Linked DNA regions of Homo sapiens: regions 1 and 2 are each linked to region 3. Evidence: fine-mapped expression QTL. A gene starts in region 3. Each other region holds a variant in brackets. All regions are shown on one strand. Distances are between the middles of the regions.

Region 1 (9,176 bases), 31 kb after region 3:
ATGGTAAAGGGATCAATTCAACCAGAAGAGCTAACTATCCTAAAGATATATGCACCCAATACAGGAGGACCCAGATTCATAAAGCAAGTCCTTAGAGACCCACAAAGAGACTTAGACTCCCACACAATAATAATGGGAGACTTTAACAGCCCACTGTCAACATTAGACAGATCAACGAGACAGAAAGTTAACAAGGATATCCAGGAATTGAACTCAGCTCTGCACTAAGCGGACCTAATAGACATCTACAGAACTCTCCACCCCAAATCAACAGAATATACATTCTTCTCAGCACCACATTGCACTTGTTTCAAAATTGACCATAGTTGGAAGTAAAGCACTCCTCAGCAAATGTAGAAGAATAGAAATTATAACAAACTGTCTCTCAGACCATAGTGCAATCAAACTAGAACTCAGGATTAAGAAACTCACTCAAAACCACTCAACTACATGGAAACTGAACAACCTGCTCCTGAATGACTACTGGGTACCTAACAAAATGAAGGCAGAAATAAAGGTGTTCTTTGAAACTAATGAGAACTGCTGGGCGTGGTGGCTCATGCCTGTAATCCCAGTACTTTGGGAGGCCAAGGTGGGTGGATCACGAGGTCAGAAGATCGAGACCATCCTGGCTAACACGGTGAAACCCTATCTCTACTAAAAATACAAAAAATGAGCCGGGCGTGATGGCGGGCGCCTATAGTCCCAGCTACTCGGGAGGCTGAGGCAGGAGAATGGCGGGAACCCGGGAGGCGGAGCTTGCAGTGAGCCGAGATGGCGCCACTGCACTCCATCCTGGGCAACAGAGCAAGACTTTGCCTCAGAAAAAAAAAAAAAAAAAAAAAAAAAACAAAGAAACTAATGAGAACAAATATACAACATACCAGAATCTCTGGGACAAATTCAAAGCAGTGTGTAGAGGGAAATTTATAGCACTAAATGCCCACAAGAGAAAGCAGGAAAGATCTAAAATTGACACCCTAACATCACAATTAAAAGAACTAGAGAAGTAAGAGCAAACACATTCAAAAGCTAGCAGAAGGCAAGAAATAACAAAGATCAGAGCAGAACTGAAGGAGACAGAGACACAAAAAACCCTTCAAAAAACCAATGAATCCAGGAGCTGGTTTTTTGAAAAGATCAACAAAATTGATAGACTGCTAGCAAGACTAATAAAGAAGAAAAGAGAGAAGAATCAAATAGATGCAATAAAAAATGATAAAGGGGATATCACCACCAATCCCACAGAAATACAAACTGCCATCAGAGAATAATATAAACACCTCTATGCAAATAAACTAGAAAATCTAGAAGAAATGGATAAATTCCTGGACACATACACCCTCCCAAGACTAAACCAGAAGGAAGTTGAATCCCTGAATAGACCAATAACAGGATCTGAAATTGAGGCAATAATTAATAGTCTACCAACCAAAAAAAGTCCAGGACCAGAGGGATTCACAGCCAAATTCCACCAGACATACAAGGAGGAGCTGGTACCATTCCTTCTGAAACTATTCCAATCAACAGAAAAAGAGGGAATCCTCTCTAACTCATTTTATGAGGCCAGCATCATCCTGATACCAAAGTCTGGCAGAGACACAGCAAAAAAGAGAATTTTAGACCAATATCCCTGATGAACATCGATGCAAAAATCCTCAATAAAATACTGGCAAACTGAATCCAGCAGCACATCAAAAAGCTTATCCACCATGATCAAGTGGGCTTCATCCCTGGGATGCAAGGCTGGTTCAACATACACAAATCAATAAACATAATCCAGCATATAAACAGAACCAAAGACAAAAAACACATGATTATCTCAATAGATGCAGAAAAGGCCTTCGAAAAAATTCAACAGTACTTCATGCCAAAAACTCTCAATAAATTAGGTATTGATGGGATGTATCTCAAAATAATAAGAGCTACTTATGACAAACCCACAGCCAGTATCATACTGAATGGGCAAAAACTGGAAGCATTCCCTTTGAAAACTGGTGCAAGACAAGGATGCCCTCTCTCACCACTCCTATTCAACATAGTGTTGGAAATTCTGGCCAGGGCATTCAGGCAGGAGAAAGAAATAAAGGTATTCAATTAGGAAAAGAGGAAGTCAAATTGTTCCTGTTTGCAGATGACATGATTGTATATTTAGAAAACCCCGTCGTCTCAGCTCAAAATCTCCTTAAGCTGATAAGCAACTTCAGCAAAGTCTCAGGATACAAAATCAATGTGCAAAAATCACAAGCATTCTTATACACCAATAACAGACAAACAGAGAGTCAAATCATGAGTGAACTCCCATTCACAATTGCTTCAAAGAAAATAAAATACCTAGGAATCCAACTTACGAGGGATGTGAAGGACCTCTTCAAGGAGAACTACAAATCACTGCTCAATGAAATAAAAGAGGATACAAACAAATAGAAGAACATTCCATGCTCATGTATAGGAAGAATCAATATCGTGAAAATGGCCATAATGCCCAAAGCAATTTATAGATTCAATGCCATCCCCATCAAGCTACCAATGACTTTCTTCACGGAATTGGAAAAAACTACTTTAAAGTTCATATGGAACCAAAAAAGAGCTCGCATTGCCAAGTCAATCCTAAGCCAAAAGAACAAAGCTGGAGGCATTACAGTACCTGACTTCAAACTATACTACAAGGCTACGGTAACCAAAACAGCATGGTACTGGTACCAAAACAGAGCTATGGACCAATGGAACAGAACAGAGCCCTCAGAAATAATACCACACATGTACAACCATCTGACCTTTGACAAACCTGACAAAAACAGGAAGTGGGGAAAGGATTTCCTATTTAATAAATGGTGCTGGGAAAACTGGCTAGCCATAGGTAGAAAGCCGAAACTGGATCCCTTCCTTGCACCTCATACAAAAATTAATTCAAGATGGATTAAAGACTTACATGTTAGACCTAAAACCATAAAAACCCTAGAAGAAAACCTAGGCAATTCCATTCAAGACATAGGCATGGGCAAGGACTTCGTGTCTAAAACACCAAAAGCAATGGAAACAGAAGCCAAAATTGACAAATGGGATCTAATTAAACTAAAGAGCTTCTGCACAGCAAAAGAAACTACCATCAGAGTGAACAGGCAACCTACAGAACGGGAGAAAATTTTTGCAATCTACTCATCTGACAAAGGGCTAATATCCAGAATCTACAAAGAACTCAAACAAATTTACAAGAAAAAAACAAACAACCCCATCAAAAAGTGGGCAAAGGATATGAACAGACACTTCTCAAAAGAAGACATTTATCCAGCCAAAAGACACATGAAAAAATGCTCATCATCACTGGCCATCACAGAAATGCAAATCAAAACCACAATGAGATACCATCTCACACCAGTTAGAATGGCAATCATTAAAAAGTCAGGAAACAAGAGGTGCTGGAGAGTATGTGGAGAAATAGGAACACTTTTACACTGTTGGTGGGACTGTAAACTAGTTCAACCATTGTGGAAGACAGTGTGGCGATTCCTCAAGGATCTAGAACTAGAAATACCATTTGACCCAGCCATCCCATTACTGGGTATATACCCAAAGGATTAAAATCATGCTGCTATAAAGACACATGCACACAAATGTTTATTACGGCCTATTCACAATAGCAGAGACTTGGAACCAACCCAAATGCCCATCAATGATAGACTGGATTAAGAAAATGTTGCACATATACACCATGGAATACTATGCAGCCATAAAAAGGATGAGTTTATGTCCTTTGTAGGGACATGGATGAAGCTGGAAACCACCATTCTCAGCAAACTATCAGAAGGACAAAAAATCCAAACACTGCATGTTCTCACTCATAGGTGGGAATTGAACGATGAGAACACATGGATACAGGAAGGGGAACATCACACACTGGGGCCTGTCGTGGGGTGGGGGGAGGGTGAAGGGGGGAGAGATAGCATTAGGAGATATACCTAATGTAAATGACGAGTTAATGGGTGCAGCACGCCAACATGGCACATGTATACATGTGTAACAAACCTGCACGTTGTGCACATGTATCCTAGAACTTAAAGTATAATATAAAAAAAAAAAAGAAAGAAAACGAGAAATTCCCTTGAGACAAGGATGAAAAGGAAGGAGAAAAAGGAGAGAGAAAAGAGAAAAAAGGACAAATTAGAGAGATGGAAAAACGCTTCCACTAAAACTAAGCAGGCTGGAGTGTCAGAAAATACACAGAGTCTGGAGTAAAGTTCCCCTACCCACTTCAAAGTACAACTCCACCACTTGATAGTTAGACAATTTGGACAAGTCACTTAATCTTATCTGCAAAATGGAGAAAATCATAGTTTCTGATTCATAGGGTTATTACAAGGATTAAATGAGCCAATGTAGGAAAAGTACCTAGTTTAGTGCCTAATAATTAGGTACAAAATAATCATAGTAATCTGTAATTATTATTACACACGCTTAATAATAGCTATAATATAATAATTATAAATATATTATGATTATAATATCTTCATTGTTGCTATTATTATGATGATTATCTAAGCACTAACCTAGGCAATTTCCATAGGTATTGGAAACTGACCGGTTTCAGACACTCCACTCTAGTCACCACCCTGCTATTTTATTACTATAAAAATATTTGTAGTATAAATATGAATATATTTTAAAGTGTTATATTTGTAGTAATAAAGCAGCAGGATGGTGACTAGAGTGGAGTGTCTGAAACTTGTCATGCCTCGAGGTGAGTCTAGGGCTGCTATATACTACCTGTATTATTTAAACACGCAGGGGTTCCATTTTCTCATTGATTAAAGATGGGATAAAAATAACTGACTAGCAGAGTGTATGTAAAGATTAACTAGCATAGACAAAAGCCTTTAGCACAGTGCCTGGCAAATAGAAGTTGAAATAGTAGTAGTTGCAATAGCAACTAATTTTCAGTGAGTGTTATTATGCCAGGCCATGGGCTAAACACTTAACATATATCTCCTTTTAATCTTTACAAACGCTTATGAGGAAGCTGTTATACACGTTTTATAGGCAAGGCAACTAAGGCTTAGATGAAACTACATGACTTGTGCTAGCTCACACACCTTGTAAGTTAGGATCTGAATCCAAAACTCTCTGGCTCTTGGTACCTACTAGCTTTCACAAGCTGCTTCTTCTTTTAAATTATTATATTACTTCATTCCATCTTTATTTTTCCCACTTGTCATGCAGAATTACTGTTGGTCATGTCTGTGTCTGTTTTCCTCTGTAGACTGAAATCCTGGAGCTTATTCTTATCCATATTCCCATGATACACGCCCTTCTTCCCCAGCATACTCTCTCCAGTCCACACCCCTAAGCACATGGCAAACCTTTGTTGAGGTACGTGCTCTTCCTGGGCCAACTCCCACCCTGCACCAGTCCTCCTCCGCTTAGCCTGGGCTCTAGTCTCCCCTACAGAGTGTTCTGCTCCCATCTTGTACCCACAAACAATGTCACCTGCAGCAGCAGCTGCACCAGCTGCAGCCCCCTCTTCTGGTGCTAAGCATCAACCTCCCATTGCTGTTCCTTGGACTCTGAGGTGCCCCCCAGGCTTCTGTGAACAAAACTTTGGCCTCTATCCCTATCTTCTTCTCACCCGTCCATTGATTTCTCCACACCTCCAGCCAACTTCCAGGGTAGAGGGGAAGAGGTGGTCTTAATGCTGTGGCGAACTATGCCCTCATCCCTCTACTCCTGAGGTCATACAACACAACCTGGACCACCTATTATATGGCTATGGCAAAGCTACTAACCCCAGGGATATGCCAATGAAACGAAGACCCTATGAATCTTGCAGAGGAGGTCTGGCACACAGGTGGGAAAGTCAGCTAGAAAGAACCTGTTCATCTAATCCTACTGATTGACATTTTATATCCAGATCCAGTGGTTACATAGCCTTTATACCTTTATACGTTATCCATCTCAGTAGCATTTGTTGGTCACCAGCATTGTGCAGGGCTCTAGGACAACAGTGATTAAAAAACAAAAACAAAACAAAACAAAAAAACCAATTCTTGTTCTCAGAGAGCTCTCACTCATCTGGTCCATA[T/C]TCAAATTGATTCAAGTTCACTGTGGCACTAATCATCCTCTTAACTATAATTATACTTTACTTATGGTTTTTACTTTTTTATTTTTATTATTTTTTTTTTGAGGCCAGGTCTCACTCACATTGTGCAGTGGCGCTATCTTGGCTTACTGCAGCCTCCAACTCACAGGCTCAGGTGATTGCTCCTATCTTAGCCTCCCGAGTAGCTGGGATTACAGGCTTGTGCCCCTACACCCGGCTAGCTTTTGTATTTTTAGTAGAGATGGGGTTTCACCATGTTGCCCAGGCTGGTCTTGAACTCCTGGGCTTAAGTGATTCTCCTGCATCTGCCTCCCAAAGTGCTGGGATTACGGGCATGAGCCACCCTGCCTGGCCTAGGTTTTTATTTTTAAAAATCCAATAGAGAGCCAGGCCATCTGCATGGATTACCTTTCATGGCATTTAGCTCAGTGCCATGGGCCTGAAGGCAATTAATATTGAACTTTCTGGAAGTTCCAGACATTTTCTTTCAGTCATCCTAGTAAGTGTCTTAATGTGATAATAGGTTAATTGATTTTTGTATATTAATCACCCATCAGACGTTTATTGTGAAATTCAATTTCAGCTCCACCAACCACATGACCTTGGGCAGGTTGCTTCATGTCTGTGAACCTCAGTTTCCACACCAGTTAAAGTAGGAATAGTAAAGCCGTCTGCATAGACTTTGTCTAATAATTAAATGGAATTCCAGGGCAAAAGGTTGTATATACTCCCAAAATTCTATTCAGTCACATTTTTTTTTTCAGCGTGTACCACGGTCTTGGGACCACTAAAAGAATAACACACAGTCCCTGTTCACTCCAAATCACAAGTCAGTGGGCAGAAACAGATATAAGTAAGCAAGTAGCTATAATACATTTAGGTATCTCAGAGTTCTTCCAGGACAGCAGGGAGAAAGGGAATCAATATTGACTTAGGATCTAACATGTGAGTTTGAAAGATCCTTAAGGAGAGTCGTCCTGGGGTGTGTTCATATGTGTGTCTCCATAAGCTCATACTTATTTTGGACTTAGCCTTCTCCATGGCCTGGTTCCCTAGATGTCTGATTTTTCTTTAATAAGTACCAGGAAGCCAATCCCGACTAACTGCATCCCCTAGAACAGCCGAGAATGCTGATGACCACTTAGCACATTCTGAAACCATCAGCCAAATCTGGGGCCGGATAAATGTGCAAAGAAGGGCTCCCTGTTGACCCTTCCCCTGAATGCTTTTCCCAGCCCTGCTGTCTCCTGCTGCCCAGTAACTTGTTGCCGTGGGAGACAAGTGTACTTAGTGTGACAAGTCACATTGCACCCTGGGACTCTTCAATACCGTGTCAGGCTGACCCCAATGCTATGCCAACTCCACCAAATTATTGAGGACAGAATGCATTTGTGTTTAAATGCAGCACACATCTCTATGAGACCTTCCCTTGAATAATCATATTGTCTTTTCCCCTCCTTACAGGAGCCTGCAGAGGGATGGATCTTGCCTGGTTGGCACCTCTGTGGGTGCCTGGGTTGATTCCTCTGCTGCCACCCCCATCCCCTGGGTGTCATGTTCCAAACCCACCCAAAGACCAGACAGATGGGCCCCTTTCTTGGTGAGACAAGAGACACTTGCAGAATACAAATCACCACCCTGCATTAGGCTCCCCAACAGCACTAGAAATGGAAGCGAAAGAGATAAGCAGAATCCAGCTTTTAAGACTTCAGTTGTTAAAGTCAATGGATGGAATTCGTGTAAAAGGAGGCAAACGCTTTTCTGCAGTTTGGCCTGAGGTTTTTTTTTGTTTTGTTTTGTTTTCCTTTTTTCCTTTTTTTTTTTCCTTCCCAGCAGAGATAAATTGCGACATTTGGCAGCCCTTAAAATGTATCACATGCCTTTGTAATGATTTGCTTATAGAGTTTTTATGGATAATAACAACAACTAATATTTATTGAGCACTAACTACATGTCAAGCAACTAATATATGTTTATGTCTTTTAATCCTTATGTCAACACTATGAAGTAGGTTCTTGGATTAACCTCTCTTTATAGATTAGGCATGTGAAGCGTAGGAAGTGTGATTCATTTGCCCAAGGTCACATGGTAAGTGGGGGAGGTAGCACTCAAACTCAGGATATCTAACTCCAGATGACACGTTGTTAACTCTTGTGTGTTATACTGTTGCTAGAGAGGCAGCCTGGCCTGGGAGAGCAATGAAGTGTGACAGTTCTCTGCCACTTACCAGCTGTGTGACTTTGGGATGGTTACTTAAGTCCTCTGTAAAATAAGGATGATAATAGTATCTACCTCATAGGGTAGTATTACTAGTGACGGATTTGATACATATAAAACATTTAGTATCATGCTTGGCTTAGAGTAAGGATCCAATGTATGTTAGTTATTTGTATAGACAGTAATCCCCTCCAGTTTAGGATCCATGTCTCAGTCCTCTTTGAATCTTTACTCCCAACACATAGCACAGTGCAAAGTCCACAGTAGAAATGGATTCAACATTACTGGAATAAATTAGGAGATTAAATATTCTACAAGATAGTTAAAATGAAACCTTATTTTTATAGGTGATTTATTATTTACAAAGTGCTGTCATTTAGTTTAATTTGGCATAAGGTTTGTTTTTAAGTTAAAACACCAAGAAAATTTGACCCAGCAATTCCACTCCTAGGTGCATATGTATACACAAGAGAAATAAAAACATATGTTTGTGCAAAAACTTGCTCATGATTGTTCATAGCAGCATTATTCATAACAGTCAAAAGGAAGAAACAACCCAAGTGTCTATCAACTGATGAATGGATAAACCAAGTGCGGTATAGCCATACACTGGAATATTATTTGGCCATAAAAAGGAATGAAGTACTGAAACATGCCACAACATGGATGAACCTTGAAAACAGTGTGCCTAGCGAAAGAGCCCATTACAAAAGGCCACATATTTTAAGATTTCATTTACGTGAAATGTTCAGAATAGGTAAATCTATGGGGACAGAAAGTAGATTACTCATTGCCGAGGGTTAGGTGCATGGGGGTGTTTAGGAAGGGATTGATTACTAAAAAATATGGAGTTTCTTTGAGGGTG
Region 2 (10,624 bases), 64 kb before region 3:
GTTCCCCTTGTGTGCCGTGCACCCCTCTCCTAACTGGTCGTGGCCCACATCCCCAGAGGGAAGCATTAACACCACAGGCTGGCTAACATGGGAGGAAGACACTTTTAAGAGGGGAAACAAATAAGCTTCTTATAATTACTCCATACAGATATTTGTTCATCGTAGAAAATCAGAAAACATAGGGGAGCAAAAAATATGAAACAAACGTTCCTGATCATTCCACCACCCCAAGATAGTTATTAATATTTTGGTGTATATCATTTTAGATTGTGCATACATATACATATAAAAATGTAATTCTAAAAGACAGGATTAAAGTATGCTTCCCATGTTATAACTCGTCATTTCACACCATATCACGAACATATTTCTTTTCCATTTAATGTACAATCCCAATAAAATTTTTAATGGCAGCATAATACCTCATCTTATTTGGTCCACATTTTACCTAACAAACCTCAGCACGTTGAACATTTTGTTGTTTATAATTTGGGGCTATTATGATCCCCCTTAGCTAAATTTGACATCTTAAGTTTTTTCTGGAAATGAAATTAATGTAGTTTATTATTGCTGAATCTGCCCAGGAAGGGCTTTCTAACTACTTCAGTAAAACCTGAGAGAGAATCCAAAGAAAATAATCCCAGTCATTGAATCACCTCTTACTAGTTTCCTACGTGTATTTTTTCAATCTGAAAGCCATGGAAGGAAAGACAGTTGCTTTTGTCTTTTATGAAAGGGCTTTCAATATAGATTTTTTAAAATTCAGATTTTGCCCTTATTGATTTAAAAAGTAAGTTTATCATAGAAACGTTAACCAGGACAGAAAAGTAAAGGAAAAAAAAAAATCCTCCACTGTTTGAATAATTTTGGTTTGTTTCCTTCTAGCCTTTTCTCCATGTATTCTTTAAAATTTGTTAATAGCGGTACTGATTTTGTTTATATAATGTGTCTTGTTTCTTTTTCCATTTGTCCTAGGAGCCTCAATATTTTTCCAGGTTTTTCTGAACTTAACAGAAACATAATTTGAATGGCTGCATTGACTGCGTTATTCAGTGTACTTTTTGTCAGTGGCCTCTCTTCTAAACTGTAAAGATTTAGGCTTAAATCCTGTCCCTTTTCCCTACAAATACCCCCATCTTCCAGCCTAACTTTCACAAAAGTTATAGCATCCTTTTTAAAAATATATAATTTCAACTTCAGGGTGTACATGTACAGGTTTGTTACGAATGATCCCATCACCCAGGTAGTGAGCACAGTACACAAAAGGTAGTCTTTCAGACCTTTCCCCATTAATCTCTTCCTGCTCCGGTAGCCCCTGGTGTCTATCATTTCCATCTTTATGTCCATATGAATCCAGTGTTTTGCTCCCACTTACAAGTGAGAACATGTGGTATTGGTTTTCTGTTCCTGAGTTAATTTGCTTCGGATGATGGCCTCCAGCTGCATCCATATTGCTGCAAAGGATAGATTTTATTATTTATAGCTATGTAGTATTCCATGGTATATATGTACCACATTTTCTTTATCCAGTTCACCACTGACAAACACCTAAGTTGATGCCATGTCGTTGCTATTGTGAATAGTACTGTAATGAACATATGAGTGCTTATGTCTTTTTTGTAGAACAATTTATTTTCCTTTGCATATATACCCAGTAATGGGATTGCTGGAACAAATCCTAGTTCTGTTTTTAGTTCTTGGAGAAATCTCCAAACTGCTTTCCACAGTGGACAAACTAACTTACATTCCCACCTACAGTGTACAAGTGTTCCCTTTTCTCCGCAGCCTTGCTAGCATCTGTTATTTTTTGTCTTTTTAACAACAGCCATTCTGACTGCTGTTAGGTGGTGCCTCGTTGTAGTTTTGATTTGCATGTCTCTGAACTAGCATCCCTTTTTGCATTAGCATCTCTTCAAACGGATTCTTACCTCCATCTTATTCATCTTTTAAAATCTCACTTGCTTTATTTTCTCTTCCCGGGAGTGTACCCTGTGCTTTCCAGACTTGAGAAGCACGTGGGATTGTGGGGGAGGTGACGTGGCCACGAGCACCATTGGCGGACCCTCTGGCACCGGGCATGTGGCATCCAATCCACAGAAGTTTAGTCCTGAGAAACACCAGATTGCATTTCTCCCCCAAAAGCAGATTAATCCTCCATGCTATGTGAGTTGTTTCACATATTAGGAGCACAGACAGCAGGCCAGGCTTGGGAGCAAGGCTGGGCCAAGATGCGTAGGCGCCCTGGGCAGGCTAATAACCTGGCCCCCTTTCAAAACGATATTCTCTAAATATTTGCCCAACATTCATTTGGAGGATAGGCTGAGTGCTGCGTGGGAGGAGGGCAGGCAGACTGCCAGCTCAGCACTGCTCACTCTATTAACCTGAGTAGTTCAACTGCTGCCCTAAACTTGCATACCTCACCCAGCAACTAAGAGGCCTGGAAGGTCACTGAGATACCAGCTCTTGTCACTTAAGTGCTCTTGGGGGTTTTCCCCCTACCAGGAGACAATACAAAGTCCTAGGAGAGTCCAGCAGCCTATTTATTACTGGTGTGACTCTGGCAAGTTCCTTAACTTTTCTGGACTGATTCTCCTTATCTGTAAAATGGGGACTGATAATAGCATCTACCTCAATGGGCCAGAAGTGTTTATATGAATTCATATACAAAGTTGTTAGAGAAGCTTCTGGCACAAAACCAGTGGAGACAGGAGGCAGCCAAGGGTCCCCAGCAAAACTCCATATTTAAACCTAAAACAGCCTGAAGGCTGAAAAACCTGACTACACTTCCTGGATGAAGCCACCCTTTCCTGACTGATTCTTTCTGAATAACGCCCACCTGAGCACTGGGAGAATGGGGTGGAGCCTCAGGAAGTTCAGTGGGGAGGAGCCTGGCCTCTCCCGTTGCTATGTGGTGACCTGGGATTCAACGTGTGAGGCGGGAAACCTGATAGGAGGACTCTCTCACTTTGCTGAGAGTTGCTTTTCCTTTTTCCTTTTCACCCAATAAATTCTGTTTTCCTCACCATTCTGTGTCCACAAGCCTAATCTTTTCCTGATCATGTGACAAGAGCCCGGTTTTGGCTGAACTAAGGAGAAAGTTTATCAACAAAACTATCAGTGTATATTATAATCACTGTGCATTGATAAATATTATTATTATCATTCTCGTGTCCCGCTTGCTCTCAACAATTCTGGTAAAGACCATTTTCTCCACTGTATTACATTTCCAGCAGCATTTTAGTTCTCTTTACAGACTGGTATCCAGGGTACCAGCCCAGCTGGCCTGCACCTAAATCCAGTTTGGCTTGGGAGCCTCAAGTACAATGGACAGGCTCCAGTAGAACTGGGCACACACATGCTTGTGTGTGTGTGTGTGTGTGTAGGGGTCACTGCCTGAATCATGGTGTAGTCCTCAGTTAGAATAGAAAGCCTCATCTTCCAGGTGAGAATTGGAAGATGCTGAGAAAAGTAGAGACAGACTTCGGGAAAGTGGTAATTTTTCAGGGGTGGGTAATCCTCAATAAGAAAAGAGCTATCTCCTCTAGAAAAACCAGGAAGAGGAGGAGGAATTATCCTTCAAACCAGGTGAAATGTGCTCCTGGAATCCTGAGAGGTAGCATGGGGTAGTGGGGAGAGAAGATGTGGACTTTGGAGCCAGCAGACATAGGTCTGATTTCTGCCTTAGCTACTGAATGACCTTGAGTAAAGTCACCCAACTCTCTGTGAGTACACATCCTTATGTGGAAAATGGCTACACATGATGAAAGATGTCCTGTGTACAGAGCCCAGAAGGGGACCTGGAGCTGCTAGATGCTTGATGACCATGACTTTGAGTCATTGAAGTGACAATCAGAGAATGGGCCCTGGTGGCATCTTGAGTGCCTAGAGCCTAGTAGGTGATTGATGCATATACACTGAATAAGTGGGAAGATTCTCACTGGCTATATGTAAATGCCAGTGAATCTCAGAATATCTAGTGTTTAATAAGTAAATACCCTATATTCTTTTTTAAAATTTTATTTTTATTTATTTTTGAGACAGGGTCTCACTCTGTGCCCCGGCTAGAGTGAAGTGACAAGATCATAGCTCACTATAACCTTGAACTCCTGGACTCAAGCAATCCTATCTAGTAGCTAGGACCACAGGCACACGCCACCATGCCGAGGTAATATTTTTTATTTTTTATATTTTGTAGAGATGAGGTCTATGTTGCCCAGGTTGGTCTCAAACTCCTGGGTTCAAGCAATCCTCCTGCCTCAGCCTCCCAAAGAGCTGAGATTACAGGTGTGAGCCACCAAACCTGGCACAGACTCTACATTCTTGCTAACACTTTGTATCCATTATTTCAAACAATAATCCAGTGAAGTGGGAATTATCCCCATTTTACAGATTCAGAAACTGGGACTAGCAAGTAGGGGGTCTGTATTAATATCCTCCATGACCCCAAAGCTAATAACCGCTGGATTTAACACACTGTACCCTTATTTTTCACATGAGGACCTGCTGTCAGTTTTGACTCAATACTAGAAAATCACTGATAAACAGGTTTTAAAAAATAGAACCATGTAATTGGGGGATTTTATTCAATGTAGTCTAATGCCTAGGAAATAAATCAGCCTTTTAAGTTTTATATAGCAGTACAGTTGAAATGTTTAATAATTATTGCCAGAGAACAGTATAATGCAGTACTAAAAATGAGTAATTGAAAAGCCCATCAAGGCAGATGAGGCATCTTCTTACTGAATTGCTCTTGAATACTTTACATAATTACTTCATTCAGATTTATGATCAGCTCAGCAAAACATACATCTCTCTATCCTGCTCCGCCTGAGTAGTTTGGGAAGCCTTTTTATATTGTGCTTACACCTTCAGGGATGGACAAATGAATGTCTCTTATACACTAATGGGGTTTGCAATGGTTTGATTTCATTTAGCAAAGGAAAAAGGAGCAAAAACTCAGTTTGCTGAGGTCCTTCTGTGTCCCAGTCACTGTGCTGGTGGTTTATTTGTATTAACTATGTCAGCTCATTTAAAGTCCCTGACAGTCCTGAGAAGGGATGGTGTTTTCCATCTCACAGAAGCAACTGAAGCTCAGAGGAATGTTGGAACTTGATCAGATTATTGAAGCTCATGGTAAACTCATACTAGGCAGTTTGGATCCAAACCTAGTGACCTTTCCACGACATCACCAACTTCCAGAAAGACCCCGTGTGCCCCAAGAGGGCTTGGAATTTTGGAAAGAGGCATCTAGTGAGGTCAGTCGAAGAAAACTGTTCCTAGCCAGATTTTGTTTGCAGCTCTGGCTCTTTAAACATCTGAGTTGTGGATGCTCCCCACCCCTGACCCCATTCCTTCATTTCTTACAACGCCAGTGCCTCCCGGCAGAGAGAAGTCCAGACGAGTCTCCTCAAGGGATGCAGTTTCCCATGGATTCAGTCTCCCCACTCAGCCCAGATCATCCCAGGCTGCAGGCTTTATCAGAGGCACAAGCTTATCATCTTGCCTCTCCCAGAGACTGCAGAGTGGGAGTTCTTGGCAAATTCAGTTTACTGGTAAGTGTGGACAAATGGCT[G/A]CCTGGATGAGATGACAGCCTTTGTTTCTGGTCTCACTTACATGTCAAAAGAGCCAAAAATGGGAAAAATGGGGAGAGAGGAGGAGACAAGTTGGGGTAACCTCACAGGCAGGAGAAATAATATAATCCCTTTAAAACATTTTACAATGCATTGAGAAGATTATACATAGAAGAGAAGGACTCTCCAACTCTCCTCCACCCTCGCTTAAGACAATGACATTTCCAGCAGACTGATTTTTCTTTCTCAACCTCCCTGTTATCCTTTCCTTAACCCTGAAGCTTGTTGTATTCTCTGCGTAAGTCAGCAGACATCGGCATGGGATCAAAACTGTTTGTGCACCCCGTTTCCCCCACCCCCTCGCCTTGAGAATAAACTCAGGCTCTGCTGAGGGTTATTTCAGAAGAGACTTAAACAAGTCACTGAATATCTTCCTTCTTTAGGACGTAAAAGCATGTCAGATTTCCCTCTTGTTTTAGAGTGACAATGGCAGACATCATGCACAGATGTATATCTTACTGAATATGGTACACATCCATGAACTTCCTTACACCCTTGGGAAATACCAAACTTTGATCTAATTATATTTTGACAATAAGAATCTCTCATCAAGTTATAGATTTATGGTAACACTCAAGGACTATTTGTCAAACACATCCAATGTGGTTATCAGCTGGTGGGTACTGAGCACTTACTTGCAAAACAAATCAAATATCTGAAGAGAATGCATTTTGTCTTTGTGCACCTGAAGGTGGAGGGTTGGGGGGAATACACTGATCAAATCATGCAGCAAAGAGAGCATTTCCCTCTGCTGTAGGGAGGCAATTGAGCTGGAAGCTGTGGGAAGGGAGCCGGAGGCTGGCTCCTGCCTTGCAGAGAAGCAGTGGACATGAGATGGATGACAGGAGGAAGCTCTTTCAGATAATTATTAGGAGCTGGAGAATCAGCTGTTGTGCTGTCAGTATGGTGTATTGTAGGATAAAGAACATAACAGGAAGGGAGTGGGGCTGGAAAGAACAAAGAGAGAGAAACAGGCAAAGGAACAATGGCATAGTTCTTGTCTCTGACCACGGACTATGGTCCACCTCTGTTACCCCTTTTACCCTCAGAGCAACCTCTGGGGGCTCTGGCCTTCCCAGACACTGCTCCCACTTCTTGTTCCTGGACTAGTCCTACTCATGGTCTCACCTGATGAGTCACTTCCTCTGGGAAGCATTTCCCAGCCCCAAGAACCCAGGTCTGATAGGCTGCACCCTCCACCTGCCAAACCACCACCCGCATGACCCTTTATCTTTGCCTCTCCAGCACTTCTTCACCCCACCCCTATAAGAACCACCTGGAAGGTTTGTGAAAATAGTGATGCCTAGCCCCACCCCAGAGCAGTGGAATCGACAGCTCCAGGCATGGGGCCAGGGCAGCAGTGACCTCCTAAGGGCTTCAGGTGATTTTGATGGACATTTAAGATGACAACCATCTTGCCTCTAGTTCGTCATATCTGAAAGCAGGGGCTGGTTCTACCTTGCTTACTTTTGGGTCACCAGCACCTAGCATTGTGCCTGGCACATCATATATACTTGATCAATATTTGTAGAATGAATAAATGAATTAATTAAAATTAAAGAGGTATTGCTACTCCCTTTTTAGAGAAGAGGAAATCGATTCATGAAGGCAAACTAGGTGGACTGCCATGGTAGTCTCAGAAGAGTCTGTAAGAGGAGGAATGAGAATGTAAGCTCCATGGGGGCAGGAGCCTTGTCTGTTTTATTTGACTGTGTTCCCGGTGCCTAGACTTGGGTCTGACATGGAACAGGAGCTTGGTACATGTTTGCTGAATAAATGACTGCACCCCCAGTCTCTTACTTTAAAACTCAATCTCTTCCCACTCTAGTTTGCTACCAGCCCTGCCTCTGCCATTATCTCTGTGGCTTTGCCCAAGTCACTTTTTCTCTCTAGAGATCAGTTTCCTAAAATGAGGAATTCAGATGATATGGCCTCCAGATTCTTTTCAGTTCTAATCATAGCAGACTGCCCTGATATACCTATATTGTCACTTGAAGGATGCAACTCCAGCTGTTATGCCAGCACCTTCCACACACACCAATGTCCTCACATTTCTCAGTGATGCGGAAGTAGGGCAGGGAAGCCCTGGGTAGAGAAGAGTGGGGTCCCTGGCAGGGGCTCCACCCTTGGGCCTGTGCCCATGGACCTAAGAGAGAACAGGCACTCTTGTTTTTGTGCCCAAATGTTGCATTTTCCAAGACCACTCTGGCCAGCCATGCCCCCCATCCTGTGCCCATATAAACCCGAGACCTTAGCAGGCACACACACAAGCGGCTAGACATCGGAGGAGCAGAGGACCACACCAGCAGACACTGGCAGACCAGCGATGGTGGAACAATGCGGACTCTGAGGGGAGTTCAGCCAGGGGCCATCAGAGGACAGTCTGCCACTGGGTAGCCTGACTCCAGGGGAAGACCACCTTCCCACTCCATCCCTCTTCTGGCCCCCCATCCATCTTGCTGAGCGCCACCTCCACCACTCAACAGAACCTTGCACCAAGCCCACCTGTGATCAAATTTTTCTGGTACACTGGGCAAGAACTCAGGATACAGAAAGCCCTCTGCTCTTGCGATAAGGCAGAGGGTCTACTTGAGCTGATTAACACAAGCCACCTGCAGATGGCAAAGCAGAAAGAGCACACTGTAACACACACCCACTGGGGCTTCAAGAGTCGTAAGCACTCACCCCAAGATACTGCCGTGGGGTTGAAGCCCAAAAGTGCTCCCCATGACCTCTGCACCTGTCCATCTGCATTCTCCCTTTAGGGGTTTGAGTACTAGGGCACTGAAGCAGCCAAGCCATACCACTGTCACATGCCTTGTGAGGGAGATAAGGTCCCCAAATTGCTCCTTCCAGTCTTTTTTTTTTTTCTTTGAGATGGAGTCTCGCACTGTCACCGAGGCTGGAGTGCAGTGGCCCAATCTTGGCTCACTCCAACCTCGGCCTCCCGGGTTCAAGTGATTCTCCTGCCTCAGCCTCCCAAGTAGCTGGGATTACAGGCGCCCACCACTACGCCCAGCTAATTTTTGTTTTCTTAGTAGAGATGGGGTTTCACCATGTTGGTCAGGCCGGTCTTGCACTCTTGACCTCATGATCTGCCCACCTCAGCCTCCCAAAGTGCTGGGATTACAGGCGTGAGCCACCGCACCTGGCCCAGTCTTTTTTCCATACTGCTCTTCCCTCCTTTCCTGCTTCCTGCTTCTATTATTTCTTCCTTTCGCAAGTGTTCCCAGTTGGCAGGCTGTGATCTGCAAAAGCTGACCTCCATCTCCCAGTCAGCCCACCTCCAAAGAACAAATCCATAGCTGAGAAAATGTGGTTATTAATTTATCATCTCCCTATATCCAATTCCAGAGAAAAACATCACTTTGTTGATATAGTTGTAGCACGAAGAGAGGGAACTTGTGTTGTTAATTATCTACTACACACTTGGCACTTCATTTATGTTATTTCATTTAAGCCTCACCTTTGACTGCCTGTCAGTTTTACCTTCACAGTATTTCTCTCCAGCACCCTAAAGCACCCAAACTCAATAAACCACTGCAACAACCTTCTAACTTATCTCTCTGCTTCCATACTTAGCCCCTACAATCCAATCTTCCCACAGAAGCCAGAGCGCACATTTAAAATAATAAATCATGTCACTTCCCTGTTTAAAGACTTCCAGTGGCTTTCCATTACACTTAAAATCCAAACTTTATAATGCCAGCTTGCAATTCCCCACCTAATCTGGTCCCTGCCAACTTCTCAGGCATCATCTCCTGCCACCATTTGTCTCACCCACCGAGCTCCAGTTCCTTAAACAAGCAGAGCTCCCTCCACCTCAGAGCCTTGGATGGTTCCCTTTGGCTGTCGTCATCCTACATGATCCCGCCCACAAACCTTAAGGAGTTAGGAAGGAAAAGAGGGAGGAACAAATTTAGATATGCCTGAGGCTTCCGTGGCAGCTGGTTTTCCAGTTGAACCTACATGAACCTGCTTTTAACCCTACTCCTCACCTTTGTCTTCTCAGCGTGCAGGTGGTTGCAGCAACTCAAAGCGTTCTTTGGATAAAGTCGAATGTATGGGCAAAATGTGGGTAAAGAACCCAAAACATTGCCTTCTCTTCCCTATGAAAAGGTTTCAGTAATTCATTGCTTGATTTTTTAGATGAACAGGGAAGAAAAGCTTAACTTTGAGGGAAAGAAGCTAAAGTTTATTGAGCTATGCAGCAGCCCTTTTAACATGATTTGGTTGAATCAGCTGAACAATCCACTGAAACAGGTTTTATAATCCCCATTTTATAGAGGAGGAAACAGATTCAGAGGATTTCAGCAATTTCCTGAGGACCACACGACTGTACTAATGAACAGAGCCAATATTCCACCCGGTCATATTTAGATCCCAAATCTCAAGCTCTCTTCTGCCATATCATCTTGCTTTGCTAAGTGTATCCTTTCTTCCCAGCAAAACAACCTCAGAGTAAACATCAATGTATGAGTAAGTAATGACTAAGATATAAAAGTGAGAACAGATTATTTGCCAGAAGCACATTCGAATCCTCCATTTACCTGTGCTAATTGTAATATGTTAACAACAGGCTGCTCTTAAAGATTCATTAAACTGAATCCCCTGAGGACCTGTACTTGGGAGCTCAGCTGGCTGATATTCTGAATTCCTAAATGCACTTAAAAATAACCAAATGTCTTTTCTCCCAAAGCATTTAATAGTATAGAATAGTAACCAATTCATAACGACCCTCTGCTCAATTATTGCTTTTTTTGGCTTTTTCTTTTATTCTTCCAAACGGTAAGGTCAAACTTCAACAGCATCACCTGCTGAGTCCCTCACTGGGCTCTCTTTCTGGATGTGTGTTGCCAGGAGAACAATTCTGCTTTCAACAATAAAAACAACAATCAATGCTTGCACAAAAGACTTAAGGACAATGGGAAATGTGGGTGAGTTAATTACATCCCTGGTCCCTTTGTTCTTTACAAATAAAGAGCAAGAGCGAT
Region 3 (10,624 bases):
ATTTTAATATGTAATAATACACAATTAATGAGTTTACTCTTTGTATACTAAATTTTCAACAGTCATTGTGTATTTTATACTTACAGCACATCTCCATTCAGAATAGCCACATTTCAAGTACTTCATAGCTACACACGGCTAAGTAGCCACCAACTACACAGCAGAGTGCAAGAAGATGTCAGGGAACAAGGTAGAAGGAGCCTGGTTCCTGGATGGCCTTATGGAGCAAAGCCTCCCATCATGCTGGATCTCCCATTTACCTCTTGTTTAAAACACTGTGTTTTGGATTCTGTTAGTAACATGAGCTTAGCCTGTACTATGACTAATATAACATGGTAAGAGTCCCCCCACCTCACAACAGAAATTGATATTGACCTATATATATGTGACAGTCTGTATAACAAGCAAATGGACAGTGTGAGAGTGAAAAGCTCCTGATATACCAGCCCATAGTGGTAAACGTATCAGTGATTATAGCTTCTTGATGCAACTGAAAGAGTCAGCTGTAATGAAACAGCTTATCTGTGTATGGGGGAGTACTCAAGTTTTAAACCTTGAAAAATTCCATTTTGATATGCTTTTTTGTATGTTTTTATTTCTTTCATTTCCTAAAACTCAGAGCAATAAACAATCTCCACAACCATTAAGCATTAGCTATGTTTGCATTTTCTAATTTTTATTATCAGTTTGAACTAAATACTTAAGTAATGGTTAGAAATAGTTACATAACAAAAAAGCAGGGAATGGTGCAAAAAAGGGAAGAGAGGTAGGAGGGGTGGCTTAATTATAATATCATCAGCAGCACTTAAGTTTTTAAAAACTCCACCATCCAGGAAATAGTTTATTTAAAAGACCTCATCTTGTGTAAATTTCTTAGAGCCTAAATATGTCCTTTCCAAACATATAATTTTACAGGCATGGTCATATAACATCTGTATGTAAAAACAAAACAACAGTCAAATCTGTTTTTTCTTTTTTTTTTTTTCTTTCTGGGTTTTTTTTTTCCTATCCAATTTGTTTTTGTTTCCCCACAAACAAAAGGAATTGGCCAAAGGCTGACAAGGTTCTTCATGTTTCTAAATTAATCCTCTAGTTTATGGGGAAATGCAACACTGAAGCCAATAAGAGAAAACAGCAAATGTGAATAAGGATTTATCACTTTATATTACTTTGTAGTAATATAAAGTAATTCTCCTGAGAGATGTCAGTTACTATCTTGATTTGTTGTTCTGTTTTCCTTGAAGGAAGGCTCACCATCCAGAAGGCTGAGGGTAGCTGAGTGAATTTCATTCTATTCCCAACTAATTTCATTGAGTCAGCACATAAGACTGGTTAAGAGCACAGATTTAGGAGTCAGACAGACCTGAGACTGTATCCTGATTCTGCTGATTATTAGCTGTGTGACCATGGATAAGGAATAAACTTCTCTGAGGTTTAGTCTTCTCATCCATAAAACAGTAACGATCAGAAACTTCCTCAAAGTACTGTAAGGAATAAGTGAGATGAGTCGGAAGAACTTAACACAATATCTTATCCAGGGCTTTGCTGCTAAGTATTTTTCTATTTCCAAAATAATCATCTCATAACATATTTTTTTAGCAACCACTGTGTGACAATTTCTTTTGACATGAATTATTTCTAATTCTCACAGGAATGCTGGGAAAAAATCAAAACACCCTCATTTTACAGATGGAGAAATTGGCTCAGAGAGGTGAAGTGGCTTCCTGAGATCACACAGTGAATATGTGACCAAGGAGGACCTGAAACCAACCCACCCAACATCAAAGCCTGTGCGCTTTCCACCAGGCTGAGGTGTCCACCCCTGTGGTCAGTGTGTGTCTCAGTGTGGGACAAAGGAAAAACCATGCAGCTTTGGAGGTCTCCAAACCTCCCAGTTTAGGATAAACCCCTCAATTATGCTTGAAGTTGGACCAGCTTTTGAAACCTCTACTGGACATTCTTTTCCCATCAAGTTCCTTGAAATGTCTCTTTAAAATACATCTAGGAAAAGCCACTCTCATTAGCCAGAGTCTGACTTTATTTTCCTAATAAACAGACCTCCAGTAAGACAAAAGAGCCTCTTTTATTTTCAATCAATTCTTGAATATTTCAGTGGATTTTCTTCTGTTTGGCTTGAAATTGTGATCTGGGAAAGGCTGGTCCTGCGAATTGTCCTCCTGTATAAGGGAAGCCCCTTGAGGATCCTCAACTTGTTATTTTTAATCACTGTAATCTCCTTTTCAAAGGAGGCCCTGGCCAGAAACAGAGCAGGCCTTTCAGAGCTTTCTAAAGCACAATTATTGCCGTTGGAGGGAGGGGGGACTGTGGGAAGAGGGAGGGAGAGTAGAGAGAAGTGGTGGGAAAGAAAAGGAAATCAATATAATACTAACAACTTGGAAAAGACAAAATAATGATCTCAACTGGATTCAGGTTTTGGGGAAGAAACTCCATGTTTCAGTCTTTTTTAATAGTGACCATTTTATTCCGGTCTAGAGTACCTAAAGACTGTACTTAGACAGCAGGCACAAAGAACAGAAGCTGCTTGGGGATGAACTGGAATACTGTGGACAAAGATTTGAGGCAGGAAAACAAGTCATTGATTCCAAGGATTGTGAGGAATCCTAATTCATGAAAAAATTAAAAAGCAAATAGAACACCAGGGGAATGCCAGCTTCACAGCCTTAAGTCAGGACAATGAGCAGAATGTGTTTGAGTTACTTTTAACATAATTATTCTAAGAAAGAAGGAGCCAACAGAAAATGTCACAAACTAGGCCAGTACCTTTTCTTTCGGACTTTGAGTGGCAGAATCAGGTTTGCTAATTGCAGGATATTTACTTGGAAAACCTCAGCATGGTTCCTGCAAGATCTCTTCCAAGGTCTTTTAGCCATAAGAAGGGAGAAAAGATGATTGCCCAATCTATAGCCTGAGTTGGGGTGTCAAAGTCCAGATGGCTGTTTAGGCAGGAGTAGCCTGTAGGGTGAAAGTCCAGGACACTCCCTATCCAGTCCCAGTTCCCCACCTGCTGGCCCTGGACGTTTAGGTAGTTCTGAAACCTCTTTGGCCCCGTGAATACCAGCTGTATCTCCTTCCCAGTGCTAGGGCCACCAGCTGCCAATGCTCAACTAAAACACGGAGGATTAGTGTGAAAAGAGACGCTGGGTACACTTGGCCTGAACCTCAGACTAGTCTAAGTCACTGAAAAAATCTTCCTGGGCTTGCATTAGCAACAGTCTTAGGCAAGGCTCCTGATATGAAAAAATACCTCATTCATTCATTCAATTAATTCATGAGGACCCAAATAACCACTGGTAGATGAATGGGACTGGAGGAGAGCTGAGGAAACCTGCTTTCAAACGCACAACACTCTTCAAAAACAAAAATCTGATCAAGAACCTACCTCCATTAGTAAACCAATAAAGGCCTCACATTCAACTGTTAGGCTTATTAGGAATCTCTTTTAGCTCAGGCACACTCACCTTTGTAAACTCATTTACTCCCTACCACCAAGAGAGGGTGGATAAACAGCTTTTTTTTTTTTCCAGCTAGGAAATAGGTGCAGAGAAATTAAATGACTTGCACAAGGTCACACAGCGAGTAAACCCAAGTCTGTTGGACTCCAGAGCCACTTCTTTCTCTGCTACGTGGAGCGGGGACAGTTTCCCCTGTGAACTCAGGTCCTCAGTTTTGGGGAGGGCCGAATAGGCCACTGAAGTCATACCCGCTTCCCTGCGGTCCACAGGGAGGATCGGCCGCCTCCCGGCTGCACCGAGTGGCAGTCGCCGCCCGTCGGCGCGGCTCGCTCTAGCCGCGGTGCCAAGCCGCGCGCTCCCTCCCGGGCTGGGCGGGGTGTTCTCCGCCCAGAATCTTTCTTCGTGGAGTACCCAGGATCCCGCGGAGCTGCGCGCCGGGGTCAGACTGTTCCTCGCAAAGTGCTCAGCACGCCAAGGTGCCAAGGGCACCAAGGAGCCGGCTTTGGGTAGCTCCGGGTGGAGAAAGTCGGGGACACAAACCCGGGAAAGGGGGAAAAGCGCTCCAAGAAGGGTGGCCCCTGGCTTTGGTCTCCGGCGTGACCCTGGCGCCCGCTGACGCTGCCCCAGACTTTCTCCTGTGTTGCTCCCACCGCTTCCGTCCAAGGCTCTCTGGGGAACTGGGAAGGCGAGGAGGAAAGTACAGCAGCTGGGAGCCCATTTGCCCCACCAGGTGCCCCAGTGACCCGCTCATCCCTGCTTAGCACCAGAGCTGACTTATGAAGGGGCGAGGGTGAGAGGACACGCTCCCTGGCGGGAGCTAAGGTGAGGCCAGACAGGCTCGCTTCCCTTCCTGGTTACCTGTCCCCCACCCGGAGAGCGGCTGCTGCTGCACGGGGAAACGATGTCTGGGGAGATGACCCTGCTGAGGAGCGAGGTGGCGGGCGTGGGGACAGAGTCAGGCGTCTTCAGATCGGTGCTGGTCGAACTGCCTGTCCCGCCTAGGAGGCTCTCACCTGCTTGGACACCTCCTCCCTGAGCTCCCGAAACCCCACTCTCAGCCGAGCGGCGTAGGCGCGACATCCCTGGGACGTGGAGACTCCGAGCTGCCGGAGCCAAGGTTCCCCGGCCTCCAGGGAGCAGGCCTCGGGCATCGGGGCTTCTCTTTCCATCTTCATCCAATTCCCCTTGCAGCTCGGAGCTTACCCCAAGCTCTTTGAGGACCCTGTCCCCACTGGGAACCTGTTCTGGAAACCCAAGATACTCTATCTCGTCTGGGACCACGAGAGAATAATTTGGGGTTCTTTCCAAGGACCCTTTCGAGGAGCTTTAGGCTGTCCCTGCCCCTCCTTCCCGCACCCCGGGACCGGTTAGGGAGAAGCCAAAGTCCCTTCTCCTGAAGGGACCTATCCAGGGAAGCCGGAGTGGCTGTCCCGCCCAGGGCCAGTCTTTGAGAATCGGGTACCCTCTCCTTCAGGGACTGAGCGGGGAAAGCTGGAGTGGCTGCCTTGCCCGGGACCCGACCAAGAGAAGCCTGGGTCCCCTCCAGACCGATTTGGAGAAAGGCAGTTTTACTTCCCTCCTGCAGACGGCCGGGGGAGAAGCGAGCCTCCCTTGCAGTCAGGCCGGCGTGACGTGTGGCTCAGTTACATCCTCCGCCTGGGAACCGCGCGTCGGAAACGCGGGGTGCCTCTCCTGGCTGCGGCCCCCGCGACGGCCCGGGACGCTGGATTATGATCCGCGCCGAGCTCGCGACTGCAAGGGCCGAGGGCAGCCAGGACAGAAGGGCCCTTGCCGGGCTGCACCCGCGCCACGCGCCCGGAGACCGCGCGCCCTCCTCCGGCACCGCGAGGTCGGCGCCCTCCGGGGACCGGGTCCCGCTCTCCTAATGCCACGCCGGGCGGCCACTTACCGCGGTAGCTGGTTCCCGGCTTGTAGAAGTCGGGGTCGCCCTCCACGCGGAGGCTGAACTCGGTGTAGCCCTCGCGCCGCGTGCCCTGGGCGCGCAGGATACGGCTGCAGTAGCCCTCTGACTTGGGCACTTTGTCCAGGGTCTCGTCGGAGAAGGCCAGCGCCGCGGCCAGGGGCAGCGCCAGGGCCAGCAGTGCCGGAGTCCGGCTCAGCTTCAGGGGCGCCGGGGACAGCCTCATCTTCGCGGCCCCCAACTTTGTGCCGCGGCCGCAGGCCTTCGCCACGCGACTCCTGCCCGAAGTGGTCCCGACGAAGGCGCGACCTGGCGGAGGCGCGGCGGAGAGAGGGAGCTCGGAGCTGGCGTCCGCGACTCGGAGACCGTGCCCGCCTCGGCTTGGCGGCCGCGGAGCTGCGCTGAGCTGAGCTGAGCTGAGCCAAGCGAACGAGAGCAGCGCGAGGAGGGGAGGGCCGCGGCGAAGGAGCGGGAGGAGGGAGGGCTGATTTTGCCCAGATCCCCCAGCGCAGCGCTGTTTTGTTTCCTCCGAACTGGCGATTAGCGGCGCGGCCGTGTTTATTTTGCGACGTTGGATTCCCAGGGTCTGACGAAGAAACCGTGGCATACCGGACCCTGTGGGCTCTGTCCCATCGCCTAGGAGGCTGCTGCTCCAACCCCCAGCTACACTCCGGACCCTCTGGAGGACGGCGCTCAGAGGAGGGAAAGCCTGAGAAATAACTTTTGTTGCACACCTGCTCTGTGCCTAGCAATATGCTTGGCGGCTTACTTACTGTATCGACTCGCCTTCATGTTCCCTACTCCCAATAAAGATTACATTACTTTCGCTCACTTTATAGATGAGCAAACTGTGACTTGCGACCAGTTACAGCAGGGTTAGATGCGGCGACTCCGGGCCCATTGCTCTTCCCAAGGCCATAGTGGAACATGTCAGACTGGAGGCTGAGAAAGGAGAAACGACTTAGCTACAGCGCTTAGGGCCCACGATACTTTTGGAGATCTATGAAAATGTTTTCTGTAAAAATCAGAAGAAAAAATTTATGTCAAACAAAATGTTTTACTATATAATGTTAATATATTTGTATTTATACCTCCACAGTCATAAAATATGCTTGACTTGGAGGAAAGAGCCAGCAAAGGCAAAAGTGCCTAAGGCTCAGGAAGGTCCTCCTACAGCCCAGGAAAGGAGTTTCCAAAGATTCAATGAAGAGCCTGTGTTTTCTTGGCTTACATTTTAGTTCAGATTCTCACTCCCCAGGGACAGATGTTCAGAGAGGTGCTGAGCCTGAGGGCCTGAAGGGAAAAGACCTGGGGCAAGAATCTCTCCCAGTGTCTCTCTGGGAAGAGACCCGAATCAAACCTCAGTCCTGCCACTCACCCATTGTGAAGCTTGGGCTAGTTATCGCACTCTCCAAGCTTGTTTCCTGCTCTGGAGAACAAGGAAGTGGGGGTGGGTGCCAGTACATCCTTCTTAGAGGTAGTGGGGTGATATGCTAGAAGTAAATGATATGACCCATATAAAACACTCTAGTTGGTCTCTAGTGGCGCCTGCTCCCTCACCCGCTTGGGGATACCATAAGCCCCCTGCCTCTCAGTGCACACAAACATCCCTCCCCAGGTGCCCTCAGAAGCTTTGGTTTCCTCGTCTTCTCTTTGCCCAGGGCCTTCGACACACCTCAAGTGCCTACAATTAGCAAGCAATCTCCTTTGCTTTCCAGGTCAGGGTTTTCTCTTTCATAATGCTACAAACAGGCCCAGGGCGCTAGGTGCATGGGAGATCTCCATTCCTCCCTGCCTGCCCACTTACTCCTTAGTGCTTGTGCTGGAATTCCCACTGCCACTATTAACTGGACGCCTTCTCTCAGAGGTCACCTGAAAGTAACCCCTTGCTGAAGCCAATTATGCTCTTCTCTCATCCCTAGCCCTTCTTGACCCTAGCAGCACCTGATCCAGCTGATCGGCCCTCCTTTTTGAGGTGAGGCTCAGATCCATGTCTGAGTGCTGAGGGAATTGTCTGCATCTTCACTCGACTGGCTCAGAGCTCATGCTGCACTCCAAGTTGCACGGTCCCATTCATCCAGCAAACTTTCATTAAGTGTAGATTTGGAGCTAGACTCTGTGCTGACCGGTAGGTAGAAGACGGAACAAAAATTCATCCATCCATCCATCCATGCATCCTTCTATCCATCCATTCATTCATGACAAAGACCCTCCACGTGCTCAGTGCTTGGATACAAAACACAGATATGTTACTTGCCTTTGAGGATTTTACAGGCCTGTGGCAAAGGCAAATATTAAATACATAATTATATGAATCTTTTAAAATTATAATTGTGATGTATGCTACAAACTAAAATAAGTGGTTCTTGAAAGTGTACCTGATCTTATCTCAGAGGGCAGGAAACTACAGAAATGAATAAATTGTGACCCCTGTCTTCACAAAGCTTATTTTATGTCTGAAAGCTCAAATCTGTGCTCTTGAACCTCTATTCATCTACAAAAGGTTCAAATCTAAGTTGGAGATGGGTGGGCATGAAGTAGGCAGGAATGCAATATTTAACTTTTTATTGGATATTGACAGGAAAACTATGGGAAGTAGGCAGTCCCAATTCACCTCCGCACTCCCATTGTTCAGATTAGGAGCCTATGAAATTACCTGCTGAGGTAATGTTCCATGGCTATTAAGGGAAAGAGCCAGGATTTAAAACAGGCATCCCCAACACCAAATGAGGTACTTTCCAGTACACAGTGTTCGCCCTATCATCTGGGCTATGACGGCAGGCTCTAACCAGCTCACCAAGCTCCAATCCCACTACATGAGCTAGGTTTTCCTAAACCAGCTTGGCTGTCACTCAGACCTCTGCTGTCTTCTCCACTCATCCGATCCATCACCACATCAAGTTTCACGCTCTTCTCCACCACTACCCCTGTCTGTGTTGACATCCTCTCTCATCTTCCTAACTGGGTTGCCCTTGTCTACTTGTGCTCTCCTTCCATCTGTCTTCTGCACTGAAGCCCAAGTGATCTTTTTAAAAATGCAGATTTGAATGTCAATCCTGAGGTTAACATTTTTTCTTGGTGGTTTTTCAGGGCTCTCAGAATAAAGACAGAATCTTCAGCCAGGCCTCCAAGGCTCTGCTTGATCTGCTTCTCCAGCCATGCAGCTCTTCTCTCATGGGCTTTGCCTGTGCTGTTCTCTCTGCCTGGAATCCTATCATGCTCTTTGGTCTCTCCTAGCCACCACTCTCCATTGGCCAACTCCTATGTACTCTTCAGATCTCAGTGCAAAACTGCCTCCCCAAAGAAGGCCTTTCTGATTTCCTAGAATAGATCCAGCCCCCAAAACTCTGCTGAAGCTCATGAGTACCTTTTCTTTTAATCTCCTCCTCCTCCTCCTCCTTCTTCTTCCTTCTTCCTCCTCCCTCTCCTCCTCCTCCTTCTTCTTTCTCCTTTCTCCTTTCCTCTTTCTTCTTTCTTCTTGAGGCAGGGTCTTCCTATGTTGCTCAGGTTGGTCTCAAACTCTTGGGCTCAAGCAATCTTCCTGCCTCAGCCTCCCAAAGTGTTGGGACTACAGGCATGAGCCACCACACCTGGCTTCTTTTAATATTAAGATTTATAATGACCCATTGATTTATAAGTTTGATGTTTAAAATTTTACATTTGTTCAGTATTTGTCTCCATTCTAAATTCTAAGCTCCAGAAGGGTAGGGGATGTCTATGGGGCTTACCACTGTATTTTCCGTGCACATCGTAGTGCCCGGCCCCTGGTAGGGGTTCCATAAATATTTTTTCTCTGAATAAAAACTTTTTAACAAGCCTACCCTCAGTGCCTTCTGACTCTGCCCAAATTTTAAGACTTGGCCTCTAAGGCCATCCACAATCTGGTCTCACTGTGTCCATCTGGTCATGCCTGGTCATAGATCCCAATCTGAGCTCCCAGCACCACCCAGCTGGGCTCCCCGTGTCCTCCACTTCAGTATTGCCTCAGCACCTTTGCTTACAGCTTTCTCATGGCCTGGAATGCCCTCCCTCCTCCTGCCTGATTAAATTTTCCTCCATAGAATGAGATCCTGCAGTCTCCCCTCCTGTGGACTTCAGTAGAACTGAGGAGGAGAAAAAGTTTCCCATTTTGACTACTGTGGTCCAGTGGATTGTCATGAACTATTTCATGTGTCTATTTCTCATCTCCTAGCAATGAATCCAGTTTACTTTCCCCTTAATTTCCTGTTCAGATGTTTTGTTCTTTTGTAAAATATACTGGACTTCAAGAAATCTCCTTCCAGTTTTTGTAGCCTAAGGCAGAGCTGATGTCAGTTGCTAGGGTGTTGCTAAGGAAAGTCATTTAGCCAGGGCAGATAATTAACTTTATCAGTGTGTGTGGGTAGGTCGCAGAAGAGAAGAGCTGGGGGCTCCAGTTCTCCAAGGCGAGAAAAGTCCTTTGATTCATAGGAGGTAAGATCTCCCTCTTTTTTCTCCCCGCTTTAAGAGAGAAGGGGGAAAAGGATTTTCTAGATTAGTGTTTTTCTGAGTATGGTCATTGAAACATGAGCATCAGATGTTTGCTTCAAAGGCAGATTCCGAAACCTCATCCCAGACCTACTAAATCTGTACTTTGAAGAAAAACTCATACTGAAGTTTAAGGAACCGTCGTCCTAGACCGTAATTCAGACTTGAAGTACATGGGTTCCAGGCTGGCTCTTCTGTTTTCACCATGTGAAGCTGTGCAGTCTTGGAAAGTCACAGGACCTATCTACACGGATTATGTGCAAAATTGGACATAGTAATACCCATCTTGCCTACCTTGTGGGATTTTGAGAAACAAATGGGTAACTGAGATAATTTGTAAACTGCAATGAGGTCACAATAACCCCACCCAGTTATTATTGTTACTTTTATTAATTCAGAAAAAGAGTCTAGAAACTTTATGTTTTTGTTTCTCTTATATATAGAGTTAAATTGGACATTTTATAGAAAGGGATTTCTAGAGAAAGAAAACAGATAGGCAATGAAGGAGTTGAATTGCACTGAATAATCTATTGTAATCTGTGGTGAGGAGGCCTGGAAGCTGTCTACAGGTGAGCCAGCAAGTTTAAAGACTAAGTTATGGAAACTGAATACATACGTACATACGGTAAAAAAAAAAAAAAAATCCTAAAAGCAAAAGACATTCATTAATTACAAAGATATTTCTTCAGAACCTGCTGTGTTCTAGGCATCAGCCAATTATATA

Direction of the effects. Positions count from the first base shown, and alleles are read on the strand shown. Sizes are in standard deviations (SD) of each study's normalised expression. Not every link is listed here.
For the expression in atrial appendage of the gene that starts at base 5,802 in region 3, G is the high allele of the variant in region 2 and A is the other (moderate effect, 0.60 SD a copy in GTEx).

The links. PIP is the estimated chance that this variant, and not a neighbour inherited with it, causes the effect.
Region 1: its variant is fine-mapped to the expression of SPON1 in blood mononuclear cells (TOPMed, PIP above 0.99).
Region 2: its variant is fine-mapped to the expression of SPON1 in atrial appendage (GTEx, PIP 0.96).

What each region holds. Positions count from the first base shown.
Region 1 is chr11:13,927,939-13,937,114 of GRCh38, reverse strand. No RefSeq gene overlaps it. Among named protein-coding and RNA genes, the nearest start is that of LINC02683, 7.7 kb to the right of the region's middle. The variant T/C (reference allele first, on the strand shown) is at 6,077.
Region 2 is chr11:14,021,882-14,032,505 of GRCh38, reverse strand. All of the region lies in intron 2 of SPON1 (spondin 1), which reads right to left. Among named protein-coding and RNA genes, the nearest start is that of SPON1, 64 kb to the right of the region's middle. RefSeq lists an enhancer at 10,314-10,624. The variant G/A (reference allele first, on the strand shown) is at 5,573.
Region 3 is chr11:13,957,901-13,968,524 of GRCh38, reverse strand. It overlaps SPON1 (spondin 1), which reads right to left and starts at 5,802. Exons shown (of 16, transcript NM_006108.4): 1 at 5,383-5,802. The coding sequence starts at 5,620. It overlaps LOC124902637 (a long non-coding RNA gene), which reads right to left and starts at 5,368. Exons shown (of 2, transcript XR_007062602.1): 1 at 3,480-5,368; 2 at 656-1,484. RefSeq lists an enhancer at 1,999-2,517.